Homo sapiens: one gene and its partners. The protein of the gene in region 1 purifies or fractionates together with the protein of each later gene. This does not show direct contact. Each region holds a gene or a part of one and is shown in the gene's direction. Other genes may lie near its edges.

Region 1 (3,500 bases):
TAAACACTTTTCCTTCCTTTCCTCTTGCCCTCCCTCCCTCCCTTCTTCCTCCTTCCTTTTTTTCCTTCCTTCCTTCTTTCCTTCCCTCCCTCACTCCCTCCCTTCCTCCCTTCCTCCCTCCCTCCCTCCGTTCCTCCCTGCCTCTCTCTTTGCCTCCCTCCTTCCCTTCCTTCAACAAGTATATAGTGAACACCTCCTGTACACGAGGCACTAGTGCTAAGCACTGTTTTCAAGCTCAAGAGATGTATTTGCTAGTGAATTTCTTTCCTAATTAGTTTTTAAAATATGCAGTACATTGAAGAGCCTGGAGTACAGAACTTCTTAGAGAAAGAAATAATTATATTTCCCATTTAACATTTCTCCTAATCTTCATGGACTTGCTTCTAAATATATCATAAAATTAAGTGTACAGTTTTGAATCTGAAGTTTAAAACATAAAAATATTAATGAGGGCAAACAAGGGAGAAATGACACTTTTAATGAGATATGATTGTTGTAAATATTCGCATAATAGTGCTGGTAACAGTCTGAAATTTCAGTTCTTACCAATGAGAATTCCGACCATATCTCCCTTTTCTCTCTTGATGTGAGCAATAAATAGTGAGAATTAGTTATGCCTCTGTTATACATGGGTTTGTAGTATAAAGCCAAATTCTATTCTGGCAAAGGAAAACCAAATATACACTTCTACAGTATTGCATATGTTAAAACAAAACAAGCCTCCTGAATGTTTTGTTTGTCTTTTTTGAAAAATAATATCCTGAAGAGCATTAAACACAGGAAAACAATATTAAAGCTGATGTTTTCCAATATGTAAAAATCCTGGATCTAAGCTGGTTTACAAACTAAAACCCTAACTTGTTTTGCAGCCTTTGTGGAGTTTGATTAGAATGATTAAATAATGTGGGTTTTAAAGAACAATGAAAACCTCCCAGATTGACGCCACACAGCACAGCTAATGTGTTTCTTCTAGATGTAGTCTCAGAAGAGGGTTTCAGTTTACATGTAACACTGGCCTGAACGACCAAGGAGCAAGTTTGCTTTTAACAAGTCCGAGTGATAATCGTGATATTTTGCCCTTTAGTTAATGGTGCAAATTTTATTTCTCAATAGGCTTTTTGTAAATGAGATGCTCATTTAAAAGTCATCTTATTTGCAGGGCTTTTTCTGTTTTTGAGAGATTTGCTTTCTCTGATTTTGAAATACAGTGAAACTCTTTCAGAAAAAAAACCTCTCTCTTCAATAGATTTTAGATACACCCAGATCACATCATGGCCCCTGAAACATAACAACCGTGCAGAAAAAGCCTGGTGTAGCACTGTTAACTTCTAAGGTCAATAGGCTCCTTCTCCCACCCTGACTTCACACCCCCTTTTCAATAAAAAGGATTTCTATTTTCCATGTTTGTGTAATTTACTACTGGGTTAACTGTGCAATCTTACAGTTGCTTCCAAAGATTAAGTCAGATGCTGCTTCTGTGCTAGAGAACTCCACACTCATGTATAACTCACTATGCAATAGCCAAAGGGATCCTTAAAAGCCTCATTCTAAAGGTGACAGATGGGTGTGAAGGAATACTTGCATTGACCAAGGCTTCTGTGAGAGGAAACTAACTTGAAGAAAAACTCCCTTTCTGGGAGGCAGAGGCGGGCGGATTACGAGGTCAGGAGATCGAGACCATCCTGGCTAACATGGTGAAACCCCGTCTCTACTAAAAATACAAAAAATTAGCCGGGTGTGGTGGCAGGCGCCTGTAGTCCCAGCTACTTGAGAGGCTGAGGCAGGAGAATGGAGTGAACCCGGGAGGCGCAGCTTGCAGTGAGCAGAGACCGCGTCACTGCACTCCAGCCTGGGCGACAGAGCGAGACTCCGTCTCAAAAAGAAAAAAAAAAAAAAAGAAAAACTCCCTTTAAGGGTTCCATCTAGTTAGGAGTGAAAGAACACTTATGGAGCACCTCATGGGAGGCAGGAACTTCTAAGTACTTCTAGGAATGATGTCTCACAGGAGGAGTCATCTCCATTGCACGGATGAAACCAAATTGAGGTCTTCAAGGACCTGCCCAAAGTCATAAAGCTAAAATGGAAGAGCAGGAATTGGAATCTAAGCGTTCCAAGGTAGAGTCTGTGATCTTCTCAGGGCACCTCCCTCTCCATGAGGCAATGCTCTGAAGAGGGTATTATTTACTTGACACTCTGGGCTTTCGCTAAATTCATGCCCTTGGGACTGAAGGTAAGACAATGCCACTAACCTCTGACAACAAATGATTCCTTTGTGGAGCCATTCAAAAGTGATAATAAACAATGATTCAGAGTGTCCAAATCAGATGGTTAGATAGAACCCCTAAAGGCTACCAGGTTTTCTTTTGTCCTGGGAAATTAACTGAATCAGTGACAATTTTAGTTTCCTAAAGTATTTTTTTATGGTAGCAAATGCTTGTATACTACCGGGTAGTAGCATTGTTAAGAGGCTAGGAGCACAGTCTTTACAGTTAGACAAAACTGGGTTCAAATCCCAGGTCTGCCACTTACCTGCTTTGTTTGTGACCTTGAGCCAGTTGTATACCTAACCTATCTAAGACTTAGTTGTTCATCTACAAAATAAGAGGAATAATAATACCCACTTTATAAGGCTGCTGTAAGGATTAACGTAACACATGTGACTGACAATCGAGTGCCTGGGATATTTTAAATGCTCAATATTTGTGAGTTAACATTACAGTCATATAGAGTTTGCGTTAATTCATGGGACCTGTTGGATAGTAATGCCAGATCAGGGAGATACTATTTGGTGAGAAATGTTGTGGCTTATTTTATCTCTCATCTACCTGTCTGTCTATCTGCCTATCCATCTATCTGTTTGTCAACTATCATGTAAAGCTATTTGTTTTTACCAGGCAGATTGAAGAGAAAAAGAGGAAAGTTTCATTTGGCAGTGTAGACAGTCAATATCACTGTACCAAGTACCCCCACCGGCTGCTAACTCAGATAACAAAAGTAAAATGTGGAACAAGGTATCCTGGTTCAAGTTACCTGTATTTGTGTGTTAATATAGCCATGGATGATTCTTATACATGAAACAATATGTACTAAGTTTTCTTTATCCTAAAAAGCAGGAACACGTTTTTATAGATGTATGTGATATGTGTGTGTATTGGTGTGTTGTTGTGTATGAAGATTGGACTAGGGCTGACAAAAACGGAAAAACTAATTGCTTTATAAATAATGTTAACAACTGTGATATCAGAAAAATCTTCTGTGAAGTAAAGCAATGAAATAAACTCTCAAGATAGAAATGTATTCATGTTAAGTGTGGGATTATGGTTAATAAAGTACATTTTTAATTAATCATTATTTCTAGGCACATATAGTTTTAATCACTGGGACAAACTGATGATTTCTGCCTGCTTTTTTTTCCTCTGCTTTAGGTGAACTGATTGACAGGTGATTGTTTCAGGCAAGGAACATTAAATTAAACATGTAGAAGTGTGCAAATATTTGTT
Region 2 (3,500 bases), on another chromosome or scaffold:
CCTTTGGAGCATCCAAATTGTTTTCATTTGGGAAATAATTATTGGGAGTGGATTGGGAGCTGGAAAACACATATAGCTTAGAAAATATCTAAATAGGGAGCTGAGGCAGGAAAAAACTGGAGGAGCCATTCAATGTAGGATATTTGAGGTTGGATAGAGGGTTTTAGGAAGCTTCTAGGCTCCCACTTTAATTCCTAAGAATCCAAAGTTTAATGTATAAGCCCTATTTCTTCTTTATATCTTTAATCTTACAGGAATCTAATTTTCTTGCCTGATGCTATCCTTTTCCTTATGGAAATAACTGGCACCTGTGACGAAGGATGAGTCATTGGTTTATGTGATTTCCATTTGCAAAACTCCTTTTTTTTGTTTTTGTTTTCACTCAACATAGACCAATCTCCAGTTCAACAACAACAAGTACTATCTGATTCAGCTATTAGAAGATGATGCCCAGAGGAACTTCAGTGTTTGGATGAGATGGGGCCGAGGTAATGATTTTTATTGAGATTTTATGAGTTGGCATTCAGAAAGTCAGAAGCAGCTTAGTGGGTGGCCAAAGGATTCTCTGGGTTTAAATTGGGTCAGTAGAGGCTCTGAAGTCTGGGAGAGCCTTAGGAATCAAGTTGAGCATCTTGAAATTGGGGAATGGCAGGCATCCTCCTTAGAGTTCCCACTGGAAAAACTAAGAGCAGCCCATTGAGTCTGAAAACTCTTCTATAGTTGAACTGCTAGTAGTGCTCATAGACTATGGCAGTTAGCAAGTAACTTGTATCAACATGATTAGTTCCCTAAATCCTTTCACCTTTCCCTTCTCCCTTTCCTGCCTGTTTGTCAGATGTTAAGCAGAGAGATCTTGGAGAGCTGGCCTGTTACTCTTAGGGAACTATCTTATGTGTGGCATTTCCTTTGCAGTTGGGAAAATGGGACAGCACAGCCTGGTGGCTTGTTCAGGCAATCTCAACAAGGCCAAGGAAATCTTTCAGAAGAAGTGAGTGCTGAAAAGTGACTACAAAAAAATATACCCTCCTCTTCTTAGATGTATATTCTCTAAAAAATTTTTTTTTAGACAGTTTCACTCTTGTTGCCCAGGCTGGAGTGCAATGGCATGATCTGAGCTCACTGCAACCTCCACCTCCTGGGTTTAAGTGATTCTCCTGCCTCAGCCTCCCTAGTAGCTGGGATTACAGGCGCCCACCACCACGCCCAGCTAATTTTTGTATTTTTAATAGAGATGGGGTTTCGCCATGTTGGCCAGGCTGGTCTCGAACCCCTGACCTCAGGTGATCCGCCTGCCTCAGCCTCCCAAAGTGCGGGATTACAGGCGTGAGCCACCGTGCCCTGCCTTCTCTAAGAATTTTATAAGTGTGTGGCTTATAAAAAACTTTTCGTTTTATAGGTGTGATTTGGCCTAAATGTTAATGTCTTTTCACCCTGACATTCTGTGGTTGAAACACCAAACTGCATCCTTAGTGATTAAATCAAACTAATACCTTGAAAGTCACTAAAAACAGAAGAATCTAATATATTTAACACATGACTGACAAATTTAGGAAATTTGGGATAAGTGGAGACTATCCTGGGATAGATAATATTCAACTAGGGGCTGAGCACGGTGATGCCTGTAATCCCAGCACTTTGGGAGGTTGAGGCAGGAGGATTGCTTGAAGCTAGGAGTTTGAGACCAGCCTGGGCAACAAAGCGAGACCCCTGACTCTCCCCCAAAAAAAAGGAAAGAAAAAAAGAGAATATTCAGTTAGAATTTTTAAAACTTTATGATATAGATGAAGAACTTTCTGGAGAATTGGAGAACATGTTTCTTTCAGGGAAAGAGATTAGATGGATATCTTTTGTTTGAAATCTCAATGGCTTTTGTGGTGTTTGGGAAGGACAAGCATTGTTTTTCCCATTTTTTAAATTCCATTTGTCTCCAGAGCTTTTTTGTCCATTTAGTGTCCTCATTTAGAATTAGACTAATTTTGATTTATGGAAAGTTGATGTGTAAAGGAGCTCAGTGCTGGAAAATAAATTCTTTGGAGATTTTCTGTCTTGTAAGTCCATCTTCATAGTAGACCTTTATTTGTAAAGTTTTCTTACACCTTGGACTCTACAGATTCCTTGACAAAACGAAAAACAATTGGGAAGATCGAGAAAAGTTTGAGAAGGTGCCTGGAAAATATGATATGCTACAGATGGACTATGCCACCAATACTCAGGTAACTCTCACTATACTTTTCGAAAGAAACACATCTTCTTTTTTTATTTTATTTTTTAGAGGCAAAACTGTGCTCTGTTGCCCAGGCTGGGTGGCACAATCATGGCTCACTGCAGCCTCAAGATCCTCAGGCTCAAGTGATCCTCCCACCTCAGCCTCCTCAGTATCAGGAACTACAGGCACGTGCCACTCTGCCCAGCTGATTTTTTTTCTTTTTTTTTTGTAAAGATGAGGTTTCACTATGTTGCCCAGGCTGGTCTCGAATTCCTGGGCTCAAGCAGTCCTCTTGTCTTGGCCTCCCAAAGTCCTGAGATTACAAGCATGAGGCACCACACCTACTCCTGTTTCTTCTTACTCAGGGTAAAGCAGAATAGCTTAGATCATTCCTGGACTGGGACAGGCCAGGATATCTTGAATCCTTTCTACTTCTCACCTCAGGGGTGCTCTCACTGATCTTTGTAATCCCAAAGGGACAGTAAGAATGAGGATAGAATGTGCCTTTCTAGTCTTGGCTCTGTTATTTACTAAGGTTCTTTTTTTTTTTTTTGAGCTGGAGTTTGATTCTTGTTGCCCAGGTTGGAGTGCAATGGCTCAGTCTCAGCTCGCTGCAACCTCCAGCTCCCGGGTTCAAGCGATTCTTCTGCCTCAGCCTCTCAGGTAGCTGGGATTACAGGTGCCCGCCACTATGCCCAGCTAATTTTTTTTGTATTTTTAGTAGAGACAGGGTTTCATCATGTTGGCCAGTCTGGTCTTGAACTCGTGACCTTGGGTGATCTACCCGCCTCAGCTTCCCAAAGTGCTGGGATTACAGGCGTGAGCCATCACGCCCGGCCTACTAAGTTTCTTATAAAATCTTAGGCCCTATTTCCAGACGTTTATTGTTTTTTTCGTTTTTTTGTTTTTGTTTTTTTTTGATACGGAGTCTCGCTCTGTCGCCCAGGCTGGAGTGCAGTGGCGCGATCTCGGCTCACTGCACGCTCCGCCTCTGGGTTCACGCCATTCTCCTGCCTCAGCCTCCGGAGTAGCTGGGACTACAGGCGCCCGCCACCACGCCCGGCTAATTTTTTTTTGTATTTTTAGTAGAGACGGGGTTTCACCATGTTAGCCAGGATGGTCTCGATCTCCTGACATCATGATCCGCCCGTCTTGGCCTCCCAAAGTGCTGGGATTACAAGCGTGAGCCACTGCGGCTGGCACCAGAAGTTTATTGTTATGGACCAAGAGAGGAGTGATAAAAAATCAAACTGATTAAACAATTAACATTTAAATTTGTTTTCACTTCTGGATA
Region 3 (3,500 bases), on another chromosome or scaffold:
GGTGCGTTTTTCTTTGTCAGTTGAAATGATCCTCTGGATTTTCTTTCCTTCATTCTATTAATGTATATTTAATTGATTGATTTTCTTATGTTGAACCATCCTTGCATTCCTAGGATAAGTACCACTTGGTCATGTTGTATAAGCCTTTTCATATGTTCAATTTGTTTTTTAGTATTTTATTCAGGATTTTTGCATCTATATTCATAAATTGGTTTATTTTCTTGTGATGTATTTGTCTGGCTTTGGTGTCAGGGTAATGCTTGCCTCATAGAACAAGTTAAAAAATATTTCCTCTTCTAACGTTTGAAAGAGTTGGAGAAAGATTGAGGTAAATTCCACTTTAAATATTTGCTAGAATTCACCAGTGAGGTCATCTAGTCCTAGACATTTTCTTTGTTGGGAGGTTTTTGAGTTCTGACTCGATCTGTTATTACAGATCTGTTCAGATTTTCCATTACTTCTTGAGTCAGGTTTGGTCATATATGTATGTTTCTGGGATTTTGTCCATTTTCTCTATGTTATCTAATTTGTAGGGATCGTACAGTTCTGTAACCTGATTTTTTTCCTCAGCAATGTACATTGATAGATTTCTTACTAAAGGTGGTGACTGTGTATGCTTGGGTAGCACTAGACTGTTTCCAGAGTCCTGTCACCTGCATTATCTTGTCTAATCCTCTTTAGAGTCCTGTGAGGAAGCCGAGGCAGGGATTATTCTAGATGCAGAAATCCAGGCTTAGGGAAGTCACTCAGCTAGTGGTGAACACTTAGTTATCCAGACTTCTGGACCTGTGCTCCTGTGCCATGCTGTACAAGAAGAAACTGAGAAATTAATACTGGTACAATGCCATCAGCTAAACTACAGACATTATTTGGATTTTCCACGTTTTCTCACTGATATCCTTTTTCTGTTCCATGATACCAGTTTGTATTTAGTCATCATGTCTCCTTAGTCTCCTCCAGTGTGTGACAGTGTTTTGGGCTTTCCCTGTCTTTCATGACCTTGACACTTTGGAAATTTTTAGCCGCAGAAGAAACAAGGCAAAAGCAATCATTTTTCTCACCATAACAATGGCTTCTCACACCGGACTTTCTCCCGAGGCTGTGGCAGTAATCAAGGAGAGATGCTGGGACCTGGAGACCCGTGTAGGAAGGCCTTGGCCGAGTACATTATCACTGTTGCCATTGGAGTTAAGTCCCCTGAGGGGCTCCCAGACTTCCAAGTTAACAGCTTTCAGAGCTGCAGACTCAGTTAAAGATTCAATGTGGGGAAAATTGGAAAACAGGGAACAGACCTGGTGATCTGACGATAATGATACTTTCTACTTCTTCTTCCCAAAGTGGTATTTCATTTTATTATTTTAGTCACAAACGCAACACATATTGACTACAGAACAATCAGAAGGTAGGTAAGCAGAGAAAAAAAGCATGTAAACACCCATAACCCAGTATATGGATGCTTTTTCAAATATACGTGTATGTCTAAATTTATATATACATATTTTTCTTATAAAAATGTAATCACATCATACTTTTTAAAGGAAAACTTCTATTTTCCTTTAATATATGATGAGCATGTTCCTGTTCTTCTACGAAGATAAACTTCTGCATCATCGTTTTTAACAGTGTCTGGAGTTTCCGTCGCCTACTGTTAGACAGTCTGGCTGTTTCCAGCTTTTCCCTGTCTTGAACAAGCACCATAACAAACAACATTGAACTCATTACATCTTTAATTACTTTCTTAGGATAACTATGTTCTTCCTTTTCATCATAGATATTCTTACTGATTCTCCGGGCTCTGCAGCTCTTGACCCGGCTGGTATTGTCTCTACAGCCAATTCCTCTGAAGTCAGCAACAGCAAAGGTGAGGTGCGCAGGGCTGCCAGAGAAGAGGAGCAATTGACAGGAAATTGTCACACTTAAAAAAATTGATCATTATTATATTTTTTAAGAGCTGGTATTCACGGAGTGTGGGTTCTTTCGAGCCTTGCACATACCCTGTGTTAGGGAAGACTTGGGCATGTGAGTGGGTATCTAGCAGCCTGAACTTCACGTGTGCAGAGTGGCCTGTGAGAGGCCTCGGCCCAGTGCTGCTTTTGTTCTGTTCTGTAAATTGTGTGGAATGGTGCCTGTCCTTGCTTGCTCCGTGGAGTGCTGATGAGTGAAGCACTGTGGATTTTGAGGTGGTCTGGGTTAGCTTCAAGAAGCTAAATGCTGTACTCATTGGGGTATTGGCATTGTCTGAAGCCTGATGGTCTAGAAGCTGATTTTCATAATATCTGTATTCTTAAAACTACAGCTGTATTAAGTCCATAAGTATTTGTTTGCAAAATGCGTATGTCCAAGGTGGGTAGTAGTACTGCTGAGGAAACTGAAACTCGGAGGTTAAGTAATTTACCTAATTTACGTAACCAATAAGAGTTAGAACTGGAATTCAGACCCATGTTTGGCTGTCCAAATCCCATGTTCTTTTCTCTTTACAGTTAGGGTGAAAAGAATTATACTGTGGCCTTATCTAAGATGCTACAGATTTTAGCCAATACATACATACAACCCTGAAGGATAGCTGGTTGATCACTGTCTGAGCTGGGGACATCTTGATGTATTGGTTCTCTAGCTGGTGACTTAACCCTATTAGATTACAGGATTTCTATCATATCATTAGCAAAAGAGGGGGGAGAAAAAAAAGCAAAATTTCTTATTCTGTTTAAGGGAAAGAAACCTTCCAAGGAAAGATTGACTGCGGATCCAGGAGGCTCCTCAGAAACTTCCAGCCAAGTTCTAGAAAACCACACCAAACCAAAGACCAGCAAAGGAACCAAACAAGAGGAAACCTTTGCTAAGGGCACCTGCAGGCCAAGTGCCAAAGGGAAGAGGAACAAGGGAGGCAGAAAGAAACGGAGCAAGCCCTCCTCCAGCGAGGAAGATGAGGGCCCAGGAGACAAGCAGGAGAAGGCAACCCAGCGACGTCCGCATGGCCGGGAGCGGCGGGTGGCCTCCAGGGTGTCTTATAAAGAGGAGAGTGGGAGTGATGAGGCTGGCAGCGGCTCTGATTTTGAGCTCTCCAGTGGAGAAGCCTCTGATCCCTCTGATGAGGATTCCGAACCTGGCCCTCCAAAGCAGAGGAAAGCCCCCGCTCCTCAGAGGACAAAGGCTGGGTCCAAGAGTGCCTCCAGGACCCATCGTGGGAGCCATCGTAAGGACCCAAGCTTGCCAGCGGCATCCTCAAGCTCTTCAAGCAGTAAAAGAGGCAAGAAAATGTGCAGCGATGGTGAGAAGGCAGAAAAAAGAAGCATAGCTGGTATAGACCAGTGGCTAGAGGTGTTCTGTGAGCAGGAGGAAAAGTGGGTATGTGTAGACTGTGTGCACGGTGTGGTGGGCCAGCCTCTGACCTGTTACAAGTACGCCACCAAGCCCATGACCTATGTGGTGGGCATTGACAGTGACGGCTGGGTCCGAGATGTCACACAGAGGTACGACCCAGTCTGGATGACAGTGACCCG
Region 4 (3,500 bases), on another chromosome or scaffold:
ATGGGATTTACCACCTTTTTGGCCTACTGCTGCTCCATGACAACAGGGGCCAGGGCCACTTCTTCCCCTTGGCCATCTTTCCTTTTGGCATCTGGGGCGGCTAGAGGAGAGAGGCTGCTGAAATGTCTCATCTTCAAGGAATCCTTCCCTCACCACCTGTTCCCCCACACTAGGTCAGAGACCCTTACTGACATGCTGTCATAGCACTCTATTCTACTTGAAAGGCATCTACTAGTTACAGTTAAATAATGGGATGTGCGATCATTTATTTGATTTTTGTCACTGCCTCTCCTTGGACTCTAAACTCCAAAGGACAGTGATTATATTTTGTTAATTGCTATGTCCTAACGCCTAATATGGTGTCTGGAATGCAGGAAACTTTCAATAAATATTAATACTTGGGCTGAGCGCAGCGGCTCATGCCTGTAATCCCAGCAGTTGGGGAGGCTCAAGCGGGCAGACCACCTGAGGTCGTGAGTTCAAGACCAGCCTGGCCAACATGGCAAAACCCCATCTCTACTAAAAATACAAAAATTAGCCAGGTGTGGTGGCGGGGTCCTGTAATCCCAGCTACTCACGAGGCTGAGGCAGGAGAATCGCTTCAACCCGGGAAGTGGAGCTTGCAGTGAGCCTAGATTGCGCCATTACATTACAGCCTGGGCGACAGAGTGAGACTCCATCTCAAAAAAAAATTAGGCCAGGCATGGTGGCTCATACCTGTAATCCCAGCACTCTGGGAGGCTGAGGTGGGCGGATCATGAGGTCAAGAGATTGAGACCATCCTGGCTAACACGGTGAAACCCTGTCTCTACTAAAAATACAAAAAATTAGCCGGGCATGCTGGCAGACGCCTGTAGTCCCAGCTACTCGGGAGGCTGAGGCAGCAGAATGGCATGAACCCGGGAGGTGGAGCTTGCAGTGAGCCGAGATTGTGCCACTGCACTCCAGCCTGGGCAACAGAGTGAGACTCTGTCTCAAAAAAAAAAAAAAAAATTCATAGTTGTTGAATGCATGTTTGAGCTGAGCCTGAAAGTTTTACCAGGCAGTAGAAACTGTAAAGAACAACCTAGTGGCTTGAAACTGCTTGGCATATTCAGAAACAGTGAGAAGTTAGGGGTGTGGTGTGGTGGGAAGAGACACCGATGAGTTAAGCAAGAGCAGCAGTTGAGTGCAGATCATAAGAATCTTAGAGAGCCATGTAGGTTGAGTGGTAAAATGCACAGAAAATTGACCATTTTAATCATTTTGAAGTATATAGTTCAGTGGAATTTTGTCCACTAAATGTGCCACCATCATCATTATCTAGTTCCAGAAGGTTTTTTTTCACCCCAAGAGGAAGCCTCATATCCATTAAGCAGTCACTCCCCTTACCCTCTCCTCAGCCCCTCACAACCACGAATCTGCCTTCTTTCCCCATGGATTTGCCTGTTCTGGGCATTTCCTATAAGTGGACCCATATCTTACATGCTCTTTTGTGTCAGGTTTCTTTCACTTAACATAATCTTGAAGTCCATCCATGTTGTACCATGTATTAATATCAGTTCTTCATTCCTTTTTTTTGGTTTTTGAGAAGGAGTCTCTCTCACTGTCGCTCAGGCTGGAGTGCAGTGATGAGATCTCGGCTCATTGTAACCACCGCCTCCCAGGTTCAAGCGATTCTCCTGCCTCAGCCTCCCAAGTAGCTGGGATTACAGGCACCCACCACCACGCCCAGCTAATTTTTTGTATTTTTAGTAGAGACAGGGTTTCACTATGTTGGCCAGGCTGGTCTCAAACTCCTGACCTCATGATCCGCCCACCTCAGCCTCCCAAAGTGCTGGAATTACAGGCATGAGCCATTGCACCTGGCCTCTTCATTCCTTTTTATGGCTGAATAATATTCTATCATATGGATAGATCATATTTCATTTTACCATACATCAGTTGATGGACATTTGGGTTGTTTTCATCTTTTGACTATTGTGAATAGAACTTCTATAGACATTCGCTGGGCGTGGTGGCTCACACCTGTAATCCCAGCACTTTGGGAGGCCGAGGCAGGTGGATCACGAGGTCAGGAGATTGAGAACATTCTGGCTAACACGGTGAAACCCCATCTCTACTAAAAATACAAAAAAATTAGCCGGGCGTGGTGGCAGGTGCCTGTAGTCCCAGCTACTCGGGAGGCTGAGGCAGGAGAATGGTGTGAACCCGGGAGGTGGAGCTTGCAGTGAGCCGAGATCACGCCACTGGACTCCAGCCTGGGCGACAGAGCCAGACTCCATCTCAAAAAAAAAAAAAAAAAAGAACTTCTATAGACTTTCATGTACAAGTTTTTGTTTGAATGTGTTTTTTTGTTTGTTTTTTGTTTTTTGAGACAGTCTCGCTCTGTCACCCAGGCTAGAGTGCAGTGGCGCCATCTCCACTCACTGCAACGTCCACCTCCTGGGCTCAAGTGATTCTCCTGCCTCAGCCTCCCCAAGTAACTGGGATTACAGGCACACACCACCACACCTGGCCAATTGTTGTATTTTTAGTAGAGATGGGGTTTCACCATGTTGGCCAGGCTGGTCTCGGACTCCTGACCTAAAGTGATCCAACTGTCTCAGCCTCCCAAAGTGTATTTGAATGCGTTTTTAATTCTTTTGGGTAAATTTGTAGGAGTGGAATTGCTGTGACATGTGATAACTCTGTAACTTTTTGAGGAAACACCAACATTTTCCAGAGTGGCCAAAGCATTTTACATTTCCACTGACAATGTCCAATTTCTCCACATCCTCAACAACACTTGTTATTTTACTTGTTTTTTTTATTATTCTATTTAATTATTATCCTAATGGGTATGGAGTGGTACCTCATCATGGTTTTGATTTGTGTTTTCCTAATGATTAATAACATTGAGCATCTTTTCATATGCTTGTTGGCCATTTCTTATCTTCTTTGGAGCAATGTTGGTTATATTTTTGGTATCATAACCAAGAAATCATTGCCAAATTCAGGATCAGAAAGAATTATACAAAGGAATCCATTGTTTTAAACGTAATTTATATTTTTTACTTATTTTTGTTTTATAGAGAGAAGGACTTTCAAAATTCAACAAGATCTATGAATTTGATTATCATCTGTATGGCCAGGTAGGTGCTAAAATATTTCTAAAATATTTCAATCATAAGCAAGAGAAAGTAGTCAGCCTCGTCATATGTAGAATATGTCGCTGTCTTAAGAATAACAACTGTTAACAACCTAAAGGTTCCTGGATATGGGGTGATCACTTTATAATTTATGAGGAGTTCTCTTTTTAATAAAATATGGTCCCATCTCAGCTCTTCATTACAAAAAAAAAAAGCTAATATACAATAGTTTGAGGAAAATTTAACTGATGCAAGAGGCGTCAGTTATACACCATATCATTAGAATGGTGATTGTATTCCTGTGACTTTTGGCTTTGAAGAGCTTATATTTATGTTTATTTCTTCCCAATCAGGTTTTTAAAAATGTCTTTAATAGAAGCTCCTCCCTCT
Region 5 (3,500 bases), on another chromosome or scaffold:
GGCCAGGCATGGTGGCTCAATCCTAGCACTTTGAGAGGCCAAGGTGGGCAGATCACAAGGTCAGGAGTTCGAGACCAGCCTGACCAACATAGTGAAACCCCGTCTCTAGTAAAAATACAAAAATTAGCTGGGCATGGTGGTGTGCATCTGTAATCCAGCTACTCAGGAGGCTGAGGCAGGGAATCGCTTGAACCCAGGAGGCAGAGGTTGCAGTGATTGCTGCAGTGATTGATTGCAGAGCTGAGATTGCGCCATTGCACTCCAGCCTGGTGACAGAGCGAGACTCCGTCTCAAAAAAAAAAAAAAGTTTAGGCTGGGCAAAGTGGCTCATGCCTGTAATCGTAGCACTTTGGGGGGCCAAGGTGGGAGGATTGCTTGAGGCCAAGAGTTCAAGACCAACCTGGCCAACAAAGCAAGACCTCGTCTCTTTTTATATTAAAAAAAAAAAAAGCAGAAGGCATAAAGCAAAAGATTAATATTTCATTTCTTACATTAAAATTAAAAACTTCTTGCTCTACAAATAAACTAGCAGCTTTTTGTTCTTCAGAGACCCCATTAAGAGAGTGATTAGACAAGCCACAGAGTGGGAGAAGTTATTTGTAACACGTAACCAACAGAGAACTAGTAGTTAGAATTATTTAAATAACTCCTTTAGGTCAGTAAGAAGACAGATAACTTGAGAAAAATCAGGCCAAAGATGTGAACAAGTCCATTCATAAAAGAGGAAAATACAAACGGCTAAAAAAGCAAAAAAAAAAAAAAAAAGATTAGTCACATTGGTAGTCAGGAAGATGAAAATTAAAATCACAATGAGATACTACTGTAACCCTTGCCAGATTAGAAAAAAAAGCTAAAAGTCTGTCAACACCAAGTATTGGTGAAGATGTGGATTTGTGGATCAATGGCAACTCTCATATACTGCTTGTAAAACTATAATTTAGTACATCCTTTTTTCTTTCTCTTTTTTTTTTTTTTTTTTGAGACACAGTCTCACTTTGTCACTCAGGCTGGAGTGCAGTGGTACGATCTTGGCTCACTGCAACCTCTGCCTCCCAGGTTCAGGCGATTCTTGTCCCTCAGCCTCTTGAGTAGCAGGGATAATAGGCGTGGATCACTACACCCGGCTAATTTTTTTATTTTTAGTAGAGAAGGGGTTTTACCATGCTGGCCAGGCTGATCTTGAACTCTTGGCTTGAAGTGGTCCGCCTGCCTCGGCCTCCCAGAGTGCTGGGATTACAGGCATGAGCCCCCGTACCCAGCCTTGTACAACCTTTTTGAAAAGCTATTGGCCATTATCTATTAACATCAAAGTTTCTTATATTGTATGACCCAGCAATTTTACTGCTAGTGATATACCCTAGAGAAACTAGTGTATATGTGTACCAGGAGACACATACAAGAAGATAGCAGCATTGTATAAAATAGCGGAAAATAACAGCACAAATGCCCATCGGGGGGTAAATGAATCAGTTAATTGTGGTATAGTCATACAGTGGAATACGAAGTACTGCAAGAATGCGTGAAATCACAGTGGAATATAACAGTGTTCAACATGAAACAAGATGTGTGAAAGTAGCAGTTTGCAAGAGTTCGTATCATATGATTGTATTTATATAAAATCCAAAAAATAGTCAACATTAAACAATATGTATTTGGTGATAAAAATATATTTAGTAACATTTATAAAGAAAAGTCAGGGTGTTATTAACTCAAGATTCAGAATGGTGGTGACTTCCAAGGGTAGAGGGAGTCCACAGGGGCTTTGGAGATAAGGTCATGTCCCATTTATGGTAGATATTCTCTCTTGTATCATTGTTTCTATCAGTCTACGTACTATTTTATGAAAACATTAAAAAGGAGGACAGTTGTTTATAGTACCTGATAAGTAATAGTATTTATTAAACTTTTGTAGTTTTTAGTATTTTGGAACTCATTAGTGTTTTTGAGTTTATTTTATATGTACTTGACAATTCAATGTAAAAAACAAACATGGCTGGGCGCAGTGGCCCATGCCTGTAATCGCAGCACTTTGGGAGTTCGAGGCTCCCAAAGTTCAAGATCAGCTTGGGCAATACGGTGAAACTCCATCTCTACAAAAAATACAAAAATTACCCAGTCGTGGTAGCATGCGTCTGTGGTCGAAGCTAGTTGAGGGGCTGAGATGGGAGGATTGCTTGAGCCCAGGAGGTTGAGGCTGCAGTGAGCTGTGATTATGCCTCTGAGTAACAAAGTGAGACCCTGTCTCAAAAAAAAAACCAAAAAACACCAACACATACTCAATATAAATTTAAATTTCTTGATGCTTTATGGTTTTTGCTTTAAATTAGAAATTAAAGGATTTAAAAAATATATAAAATATATAAACATATGACAAATAAGAATCTTGATTATTTGGGTGAAGAAAGAAAACAAAATCACGAATTTAAATTTCCAGGGCTCTATTTTATGTTTTTCAGCAAGGTCATTTGAATATAAAATATTTAATAAGGACCTCAAATCATATTCTCTTGTTCAAGTACTTTAAAAGTTGATTCCAGAGCCCTTAAAATGTATGAAGGATGCTTTTCCAGACTGAGTCATAAGAAGTCCTAAAAGCCAAAGAATTTAAAGGGTTGTAAAGCAAATAGCCAGAGAAGTGTCAGACCTGTTTTATTTTTGATGTTACCTTCTGAAGGAATTTCTCCTGGGAAGTTTTTCCATTTGTATTTCGATCTCAAAACTAAATTTGGAAAAATCATCTTGTTCATATTATCAGTCTGGATGTGCATATTCATATCTCAAAAGTATTAATTGGAGGCAGATCACCAGTAGAAATTAAATTCAAATGAAAAATAATGTTGATACACTTTATGCTTTTGCTATTGATTTTTTAGCCTTAAAAGATTGGTAAAATATTAGTATTTTCCTTTTTCCCTTGCATGTTTACAACAGTGAAAAAATGTGTAGCTAAATATAGATTGAAAATGTGGCAGACCCCCGAGTTAAGCAGTCAGGTTTTCAGTACCATTCAGATTTGGTTCTTTGAGGTTAGAGTTCTCATCATCTCAAAGATGAGATTACTTCCTAGACCTAGAGATGTTATCAAATCAAGGCTGTGTACATTTTATTTCCTTGGTCTTTTTTTAGACTCCATAATCTGAATCATTGTTTTTATCAGATGCCAAATCTTTTATTTTCATTTGTTAATCATAATTTATCATTAGGAAACCAAATTGTGCATTGTTCATTTCTTATTTAGATTATGCTTAATAACTAGTAGGTTAGGATTCTTATAGACTGCTGGAGAGTGGCTTGGGTAAGGAACACATCTCTCTGAAATATTACCTCTATTGTGACATGACTAAATCATTGATGTAAATGATTAGGAAACTTAAAACCTACTTAACACATTGTATTTTTTTTTCTTCTTTTGGTATTTAGGTGTTCACTCAACTTGGATCTGTGCTGAAAAATTGTGACATTTCAGTACATCTGGTAGAGGTAAGCCAAAAATTAAGTGA
Region 6 (3,500 bases), on another chromosome or scaffold:
TCAATTAATCTGCCTACCTCAACCTGCTAAAGTGCTGGGATCACAGGCGTGAGCCACCATGCGCGGTCTGAGTTTATTTTTTTATTTATTTTTGTGTGTGTGTGTGAGACAGTGTCTTGCTCTGTCGCCCAGGCTGGAGTACAGTGGTGTGATCACAGCTCACTATAGCCTCGACCTCCTGAGCTAAAGCAACCCTCCTGTCTTCTCCTGCAAGTAGCTGGAACCATAGGCATATGCCACCATGTCCAGCTAATTTTTTAATTTTTTGTAGAGATGGGGTCTTTCTTTGTTGCCAGGGTGGTCTCAAACTTGTGAGCTTAAGCAATTCTCCTGCTTCGGCCTCCCAAAGTGCTGAGATTACAGGTGTGAGCCACCTTGCCCAGCCTTCTTTGAGTTTATATATTTATTTGTTTAAGCTCTATTTCTCAAGAAGGGTTCCTTCTGTCTCCAGATGGTTTCCACGGTGATGTGTACCTAACAGTGAAGCTGCTGCTGCCAGGAGTCATTAAGACTGTTTACAACTTGAACGATAAGCAGATTGTGAAGCTTTTCAGTCGCATTTTTAACTGCAACCCAGATGATATGGCACGGGACCTAGAGCAGGTCAGAGGAACGGGAGGGAGGGTAGGCTACATTCCAGGTGGGGTTTTGCCAAGCCAGGCACCTGCAGCCTCTTTTTTTTTTTCTGGTTGGGACACATACTGTTTTAGGAAACTGAAACCCATTTGAGCAAGCTTCCGTTATAGGGGGAGCTGAATGTGAGGCTATAGCTCTTAATTTCTTAAGTTTCTGAGGGTGGAAACCATACAACTGCTGAACCACAAAGGCCTGGTTCTCAAAAGGCAGAATTTGAGACTTGCCCCCTCTGTCTCTCCTGGGGCTTTTATTCTGGACTCTTTTTTTCTTGCTTGTTTTCTCCTATAACTTGGCTTTACCAAGCTTTGGTTTGTCCGTGACTCTATCCCTGGTACCATGGCAAGTTTCCATCCCCTTCTAGGAATTGTGGATGGGCTAGTGTCTCTAAGAAGTGGGCTAGATATGTTGAGTTGGGATAGGAGCTATGATTGAAATTTCTTGATTCATCTTCAGTCCTGGGTCTTGGGGGATACACTTGGCCACCCTAGGGTTGCAGCAGTGGCATTTTGGTTTTTGGAGACAGGGTGACGTGTCAGAGACAATCAGAGTCTTCTTTGAGCAGAGCAAGTCTTTCCCCCCAGCTGCCAAGAGCCTCCTTACCATCCAGGAAGTGGATGAGTTCCTTCTGCGGCTGTCCAAGCTCACCAAGGAGGATGAGCAGCAACAGGCCCTACAGGACATTGCCTCCAGGTGGGGGAGCTGCCTCCGTCAAACCATGCCCATAGAGAGATGAACTCTCTTGGGAAGGGAAGGTTCCCTTGGGGTTCCAGAGCTCTTCAAGACCAAGTTAAATGTGCTTCATCCCCCTAGGTGTACAGCCAATGACCTTAAATGCATCATCAGGTTGATCAAACATGATCTGAAGATGAACTCAGGTGCAAAACATGTGTAAGTAGCAGCTCCGCTGACAGCCTGAGCTGTCATTTGTTAGCTTTGTTTGTTCCCAACTGGTGTCAGGACTTTTGAGTCCCAGTCAGGATTTGAATCCCCCTTCCACCTTCTTACTTTCTGTGAGACCCTGATCTGTCACTTGACCTGTCTCTGCCTCCATTTTTTCCCATATAAAATGGAGATAACAGTACCTTTCTCACAGAGTTCTTACAGTTGAAGTGTGGCATACGTTCAGTGAGTATAGTATGAGTCTCTTGCCTACTCCAGCCCCCTCCTCGCTAAGGCGGCATCCACATAGGCACAGTATCTCAAAAGAGCTGAATTTTCCAAGAGCTTTCTCTCCTCTTGTGAAAGTCTTTAGACAATAGAACACAACCCCTTCCCTACAGATGAGGATTTCTTCTGTGAGGACAGATTGCTGTCCAAAGCCATGGAGTCAAACAAAGGCAGTGGTTTTGTTTCCTTGTTCCTGTACCCCTTGGCAGGTTAGACGCCCTTGACCCCAATGCCTATGAAGCCTTCAAAGCCTCGCGCAACCTGCAGGATGTGGTGGAGCGGGTCCTTCACAACGCGCAGGAGGTGGAGAAGGAGCCGGGCCAGAGACGAGCTCTGAGCGTCCAGGCCTCGCTGATGACACCTGTGCAGCCCATGTTGGTGAGGAGTGCTCCCCTGCCTCTGCTTTCCAGCCTCTCCAAGCTCCACATCCTTTGGGCTGAGATCAGATAGGGTATGAGTGTTGAGAGCACTTGCAAATTGACTGGAGAAGTTTAGGGAAGGAAGAGGGAGGTGCAAGGGGGTATTTCTCTGTAGGAGGCGAAGGCAAAGGAGAAGACAGAGGATCTAGTGGAAAGACCTGAGTTGTAGGCCCAGCTACGCCACCAAGATGCTGTAGAATCTTAGATGAGTGACTTGCCTCTCTTGTCCTTCAGTCTCCTGTGTGGATGACGTCTGAGACTGCCTGAGGCATCCCCCTAGAATGATTTATCTGTTATCTTACCTGAAGACGGATGTATTAAGTAACCCCTGAGATTCTGTGACCTACTGCAAAGTAGATCTGAGAGTTGGTAGCAGAGCCAGGCTTCCTGTGACAGGGTGACTTGGGAAGAGGGAGGACACATAAGGAATGAAGGCTGACTCTGACAGACATCATCTTAGGCCTCTGCTCATTTCGTAAGAAATGGGGTTTCCTTTCCAGTGTTGGTTTTCCTGTGTGACAGGGCCCACCACATATGGTGCCATGCCTACTGTGAGATTCTTTGGATTTTTGAGTGATGTACAGTGCTTTTTTTGAAACTGTCTTGTTTGTCATACTAAAACCTTGGTTTAGGGTTTTATGTTTGAGATAGGCAAGTGTTCTCTCCCTGCTAGGAATGTGGGATAGCCAGCATCAAAACAGTGAGATCTCCATCCCAGAGATGGGACTGCGGCCACCTGCAGTAGTGGCCTTTCTGACTTTTATAAAAATGCCTCCTGGAGTCTGTTCTATAGTTTGTCATTTAAAGACTGGCATGGGTTATATAGCTTAGTGGTTAACCACACAGGTTTTATAGGTGGGCCTAGATTCAAATCTCATTCTTGCCATTTTTTAGTGTAACTTAAGCAAGCACCTATTCTCTCTAACCTTCAGTTTTATCATCCAAAAATGAAAACAATATTTGTCACATAGGATGTCACATCGGGGATGAAATGAGATTATGTATGTGAAGCGCTCCCAAAATGGTAGCTATTGTTGTTTGAGTTAGGCTAGCACAGGTAGGCATGTAAGTAGGTGCTCCAATATCTGGAAACCCTGTTTGTTGTAGGGACCCACGATCACTCACCCTGCCAGCCTCACTGTCACCTGCACTCTTTAACCTTAGCTTCACATACCTCTTTTACTGGGAGAACTGATGTGTTTTATAATAAGCCAGAGGTCTTGCAAGGCCTGAATTATTGAGAAAAGAATTAAATCTTGTTTCACTGGGCTTTTACTT

The links.
Region 2: the proteins of HMGA2 (region 1) and PARP2 purify together in Homo sapiens (affinity purification with mass spectrometry; one large-scale study listed by BioGRID and IntAct). This does not show direct contact.
Region 3: the proteins of HMGA2 (region 1) and XPC purify together in Homo sapiens (affinity purification with mass spectrometry; one large-scale study listed by BioGRID and IntAct). This does not show direct contact.
Region 4: the proteins of HMGA2 (region 1) and TOP3A purify together in Homo sapiens (affinity purification with mass spectrometry; one large-scale study listed by BioGRID and IntAct). This does not show direct contact.
Region 5: the proteins of HMGA2 (region 1) and NDUFAF7 purify together in Homo sapiens (affinity purification with mass spectrometry; one large-scale study listed by BioGRID and IntAct). This does not show direct contact.
Region 6: the proteins of HMGA2 (region 1) and LIG3 purify together in Homo sapiens (affinity purification with mass spectrometry; one large-scale study listed by BioGRID and IntAct). This does not show direct contact.

The regions. Positions count from the first base shown.
Region 1 is NC_000012.12:65,834,483-65,837,982, forward strand, and holds part of HMGA2 (high mobility group protein HMGI-C), read left to right. Parts: intron 1-3,500.
Region 2 is NC_000014.9:20,350,135-20,353,634, forward strand, and holds part of PARP2 (poly [ADP-ribose] polymerase 2), read left to right. Parts: intron 1-391; coding exon 392-488; intron 489-912; coding exon 913-988; intron 989-2,110; coding exon 2,111-2,213; intron 2,214-3,500. UniProt on the Homo sapiens protein: Poly-ADP-ribosyltransferase that mediates poly-ADP-ribosylation of proteins and plays a key role in DNA repair.
Region 3 is NC_000003.12:14,158,102-14,161,601, reverse strand, and holds part of XPC (DNA repair protein complementing XP-C cells), read left to right. Parts: intron 1-1,771; coding exon 1,772-1,861; intron 1,862-2,709; coding exon 2,710-3,500. UniProt on the Homo sapiens protein: Involved in global genome nucleotide excision repair (GG-NER) by acting as damage sensing and DNA-binding factor component of the XPC complex. Has only a low DNA repair activity by itself which is stimulated by RAD23B and RAD23A.
Region 4 is NC_000017.11:18,308,495-18,311,994, reverse strand, and holds part of TOP3A (DNA topoisomerase 3-alpha), read left to right. Parts: intron 1-3,053; coding exon 3,054-3,113; intron 3,114-3,500. UniProt on the Homo sapiens protein: Releases the supercoiling and torsional tension of DNA introduced during the DNA replication and transcription by transiently cleaving and rejoining one strand of the DNA duplex.
Region 5 is NC_000002.12:37,238,158-37,241,657, forward strand, and holds part of NDUFAF7 (protein arginine methyltransferase NDUFAF7, mitochondrial), read left to right. Parts: intron 1-3,420; coding exon 3,421-3,500. UniProt on the Homo sapiens protein: Arginine methyltransferase involved in the assembly or stability of mitochondrial NADH:ubiquinone oxidoreductase complex (complex I).
Region 6 is NC_000017.11:34,990,512-34,994,011, forward strand, and holds part of LIG3 (DNA ligase 3 isoform alpha precursor), read left to right. Parts: intron 1-451; coding exon 452-603; intron 604-1,159; coding exon 1,160-1,326; intron 1,327-1,446; coding exon 1,447-1,524; intron 1,525-2,012; coding exon 2,013-2,181; intron 2,182-3,500. UniProt on the Homo sapiens protein: Isoform 3 functions as a heterodimer with DNA-repair protein XRCC1 in the nucleus and can correct defective DNA strand-break repair and sister chromatid exchange following treatment with ionizing radiation and alkylating agents.